Regions from separate parts of the Homo sapiens genome. Here region 2 is linked to region 1. The links come from fine-mapping of genetic effects on gene expression. Tissue or cell type: whole blood. Region 1 holds a variant in brackets; the other region holds the start of a gene. All regions are shown on one strand. Distances are between the middles of the regions.

The links. PIP is the estimated chance that this variant, and not a neighbour inherited with it, causes the effect.
Region 2: UFL1 starts here. The variant in region 1 is fine-mapped to the expression of UFL1 in whole blood (TOPMed, PIP above 0.99). The same link has a PIP of 0.9 or more in blood mononuclear cells.

The regions. Positions count from the first base shown.
Region 1 is chr6:96,550,293-96,552,792 of GRCh38, reverse strand. It overlaps UFL1 (UFM1 specific ligase 1), which reads right to left. Exons shown (of 19, transcript NM_015323.5): 16 at 1,280-1,360; 17 at 870-955; 18 at 131-311. Among named protein-coding and RNA genes, the nearest start is that of FHL5, 12 kb to the left of the region's middle. The variant G/A (reference allele first, on the strand shown) is at 944.
Region 2 is chr6:96,520,312-96,522,978 of GRCh38, reverse strand. It overlaps UFL1 (UFM1 specific ligase 1), which reads right to left and starts at 1,173. Exons shown (of 19, transcript NM_015323.5): 1 at 1,029-1,173. The coding sequence starts at 1,105. It overlaps UFL1-AS1 (UFL1 antisense RNA 1), which reads left to right and starts at 1,265. Exons shown (of 4, transcript XR_007059687.1): 1 at 1,265-2,667. RefSeq lists enhancers at 1-712, 1,379-1,568, 713-1,584, 1,585-2,456, 2,457-2,667.

The DNA of each region.
Region 1 (2,500 bases):
ACATTATTGGAAATGGGCTTTGATGTTAATGTATTTTATACCTGAGTGCTGACAGTAATTCATCTCAATCCACTCAAAATATTCAGAATGTAAATCTTTGAAAGTTTCAAGTGTATTGAAAATGTAATACCTCTGGAATTTTACTATTAAGAAAAGCAATGATCTGTGGGACACATCTTCCAGGTGCATGGAGCATGCTGTGGGTTGAAAACTGAAACAACAGGACTGATGTGAGGTGCAGAATAAGAGCAGGGTCTTCTGTGACCTTTAGCTGTTCAGCCAGTGCTTGTCGATGTTGGAACAGTATCTGTCTAAAAAAAAAAAAAAGCACACAAATTCATTATCATAATTTAAGAAGTTCTCACCAATTTCAATTCATCCCTTTCTGTTAATTTTTAGCTTCTCTAGTTTATCTAATTCCATAAAAATTTAAGGTAACTTTTCAATATGGGATATACACACATAAAACCTAAATGGCATGGATAGATTAGTGTGCTACAAAATTAAAGAAAAAGCTATAGAGTGGGAATACTCAAAGTATGTTTTTTGTTTTGAGTTGCTGGAGGTCAAACAAATTTGCACTGATTAGGTAAGGTTTCCTGTAAGGAAAGTCCCCAAGCTAATAAAAAGTTCCTGGGCTTGATGAACTATAGGATAAAGAAACTCTGCTACTTGATCCAGAGGGTCAGAGAGAAATATCTAACTATTTTAAGACTTTGAATATTCTTGAAGGTCTACAGCCATTTAGATATATTAGACACATTAGGTACATATTCTCTGTGTAAGAGCCGGGCAGTCAAATTCAAATTTCAGATATGAAAGGCTCCACATTTAAGAACATTTCCAAATATAGATTAATTTAATGTTACCTTTCCCTTTTTTTGTCTCCCCTTTTCACCATAATATCACAAGCTTCTGCTGCAGAATCCAGACAAGAAATAAA[G/A]TCTTCTATGCTCTGAAAAGGCATTGAATACCATAATTTACTTTTATATATAACTGCATAAGGAAGTATAGCCATTTAACAATTGTTTTGTAATTTTACATCCCAAATACAATTTTTAAAAGGGTCACTTTCTCATTAAGTTAGAAATTGTGATATAGAACTAACAATGGTAAAATGCCAGCAGCTTGGTCTTCTCTTCTCATTTCAAAGAGGCAGCTGAGTGCAAAATACTAGTTTTAGATTGGATTTACAATTACTCTGATAAAAAAATCTACTCAAAGATCTTTGTAACAAACTGCTAGCCCTGACATGTAAATAGAATAAAACTTTACTTACCTTTTCATTCAGAGAGTTATGGAGTTTTGTAAGAGCTACTTTGGTTTCTTCTGATAATTTACTTAAAATTTTCTTTCTTATCTGTAGGGGTAAATGAAAATTCATTCAGTACTGTGCTTTTGACATGCAATGGATATAAGATAAAGTGAAAAAAATACTGTAACAAGTTCCTGAGTGGAATTTACCATATTCTTGAATTTTAGATCTCAAATTAGAGACAAAAACATTATTAGAGTCAATAGCCAATCAGCCAAACAGGATAGATACAGCCCTGCTCCTCCCACCTGCTCCATCAATGTAAGAGAAAGACTAGAGAGAGTCGTTGACCTTGTGAGAAACAGAATATTTGGGTTAAGAGGCTAATTCTTCCATTAGAGTAGGAAGAGGGTGTTTTTCTCTACCCAGTGCCAGCTGTGAAGGGCCCCACTCATAAAGATCAAGGATGCCTACAAGATGGGAGGCTGAGCTCTTGTTCATGGCTGGATGCTTGTTATGCTCTATGGTATGAGGAATCTTTTCAGCACCTCTCTCTACATGTAAGTGTCCACTGAAGTTTTATGGTATTCTTGATCAGAGTCTTTTAGTTTCTTCTGGCATAAAATTTTGGAGCAGACTTGCTAGTATGGCTTGACACCAGGCCCTGAAGTGTATAATGTCTGGGAAGATTAAGGGCTAGTTGCTCCTGTCTAGCCTCTCTGCCCCAATCCCACACCAATCCTTCTGTGGCCCTTAAAGGGCATGGAACAAGATATTCTGTATTTTCCATAGCAGAGATTGGTATAAGGGCAGGAGACATGAAACTGTCTAGACAACTGGGGATTTGCTTCTTAAGCAGAAGAAGGGAAGGGGGCCAGCACCTTGCTGGGGAAGGAGGAAGAAATAACTGTTCCTCTGTTTGAGGGATGGTCCTTACTGTGAGAAGTCACATGAAACTAAACAACATTCCAGGGAAACAACTTATATCGCCTATGAGGCAATGACTAACTACATCACCAAAGACCACAAACATCAGACTGATTTGGTTTGACCTTGATCAAAGCAGTGACATGTAGTCAGTCACATCAAGACGCTTTTTCCTGCCTCATTTTTCCTAAATCTCCAACTCGAAGTGGACCTAGAGAGGTGAGGAAGAAGGAAGAAGAACAGGAAAGAGGAGGAGGAAGAGGAGGTAGAGAAGGTGGGAGGAGGACAGAGAAGAAAGAGAAGGAGAAGGAGGGGTTG
Region 2 (2,667 bases), 30 kb after region 1:
CCTTTCAGAGTAAGTAGGTTTACATATGCTTAAATCATTTATTTAATTGGTACACATCATCCCATCACAAATTTCAAGTCTGTTGTCTCTTACAGGCCTGCTTCCAATCTTCAAATCTGAAGGGAAAATTGAAGACATTTATTTAGGTAGGAAAAAAGAAAAAACAAAACAAAACAAAACAAAAAATGCCCTAATTTCCAGTTTAATCAGAATTTTCTTTTAAATTAAGTGCATAATTGCCTCACTTACACACATGGTCTGCAAGCAGGCAGGGGATGTGGCCTAGTGAAACCATAACTTTTACCCACGTTAGTTACCCATGCAGTTACGAGTTTGCTATCAGTGGTAGAAAATACAGCATAAGGGGATTGCTGTCTTCCGGCTCAAAAGGAATAAAACATCGCAGGTAGGAAGTAGTCAAAGAATAGAAAGGCTTCTATTAGCGTTATTTTTAAAAAGCAGAGTTAGGCTCCTCTGGACACATCCTCCAAAGGTTAGTGGGCTTGTAGAAAATGTCAGTGCCCTGAATAACAGATGGGGTCAGGGGTCTAGCCCTAGGTCTGTTACGAGAGATAAAAGGGCAAGAAGTTTTAAGGATCAACATACTATTTGCCAAGTACTGTACTGGGGGCGGGGGTTAGCCTCTCCTTTCGAGCTCATTCTAGATCAGGAAGTGTATAATAGCCAAGATGTCACAGTGATTTGGTGGTTGGTGGGTGAGGGAGGGTCAAAGAAATGCTCAATAAAGGCAGCTCGAAATCACCGGCCCCGTCCATGGTGGGGCGGGGCGCGCCAGCATTTCGCTGCAGCTGGGCTGGGGGGCTCCAGGGCGTCCTAGGCTGAGGACTTTCCCGCCGAGCCTTGGACTTGGAACTGCGATCCAGGCTCGGGACAGAGGGAGGAGGAGAGAATGGTGACAAGCAGCGAGAAGACCCGGGATGCAGGGCCGCGGGTCTAAAGTCCCAGATACAGGCGTGTCCGCCCACGGCCTAATTTGGGCTCCACAAAGGAGAGGGAGGGTCGGGCACCTCTGCGTGGCCTCGGCGAACTGCGCCCGCTGGAAGTCGGCCGCCAACCGCCTAATCTCTTCCCAGGCGTCCGCCATCACGGCCTGACTCGCAGTAGACGCGGAGGAACTGCAGACACGTCAGCCGACAGGCGGTGGGAGAAGAGAGGCGGAACGGGCCGCGCAGAGGGACAAGAGGCTCCGCCCCCGACGCAGACACACCAAACGCTTGCGCCCGAGGCGCGGGGGGCGGGCGGAAGTGCCGTGGTTGTACCGCGGCGCTGGGGGTTCCTCCCGGCGAGACTGGCGGGGCTGCGGCGGCTAGGAGAGTGGTGCGTAGGTGTTTCTGGGGGGGTCGTGGGCAGGATGCAGGGCTCAGTAAAGTTTAGTGTCAGAACTTTGTTTGCGCTACCCCTAATATTTCCGTAGAGTAATAGTTGTATTAACTACTTTTCTTTTTTCTTCTGTCCTCCATTTGTTTTGGGGGAGGGTGCGGAGGAATAAGCCTGTGTCTAAGATTGGCGCCTCTCTTCTCTAGCTGTTAACTCTGAGCATTCCCTTTTGTATAGGGTATCGTGTTAATTTTTACATGCACCCAGAGCAGTCTGCCTTTTGGAAGATACATGGGAGACCCTACCGAAAGTAATTACTTTTTTTTTACAGAGTGAATAAATTTGCGTGTCATAAAGGCTGTATAATTGCTTTCGTGTCTAGAGTTCTAGAGTCTTTCGTATTTCTCTTATTGCAATGATTAACTTCATCAAATAATGAGGAATATAAACATAAGGTGCATGGCTATCAAGGAAACAGGGAAAGCAAAGAGAACATGTATCCTGCTTCCCTGTTGAGTAGATATTTACTCAGGTGTACCTTTCTTTTTTATATCTTTTTTATATCTTATGAATTGAAAATAAATCATGGGACCCCCAAATCACTAAGCTAAAGGGAAAAGTCATACTGGGAACTGCTTAGGGAATCCTGCCTCCCATTCTATTCAAAGTCACCCCTCTGCTCACTGAGATAAATGCATGTCTGATTGCCTCATTTGGAGAGGCTCATAAGAGAATGCAACTGTCTGTTATCTACCTATGACTTGGAACTTCCTCCCCACTTGGAGTTGCCCCGCTTTTCCAGATCAGACCAATGTTTATCTTACATATATTGATTGCTGCCCCATGTCTCCCTAAAATGTGTAAAACCAAGCTGTGCCCCAGCCACCTTGGGCGCATGTTGTCAGGATCTGTGCCATGTCATGGATGCAAGTTCTTAACTTTGGCTAAATAAACTTTCTGAGTTGATTGTGACCTGTCTCAGATATTTGGAGTTCATGTATCTCACTCTTTACTATTTAAAAAATATTATTCCAGTTAGAAAGAATGAATAATATCAAGTATTTGATAGCACAGCAGGGTGACTAGTTGTCAGAGGCGTTTGAACTAGAGCAACTCCATCTTGAATAGGGGCTGGGTAAAATAAGGCTGAAACCTACTGGGCTGCATTCCCAGGAGGTTAGTCACAGAGTGAGATAGAAGGTCCACAGGCAGGAAAAACAAGTCATAAAGACCTTGCCGATAAAACAGGTTGCAGTAGTGAAGCCAACCAAAACCCACCAGAAACCAAGATGATGAATACAGTGACCTCTGGTCGTCTTCACTGCTCAT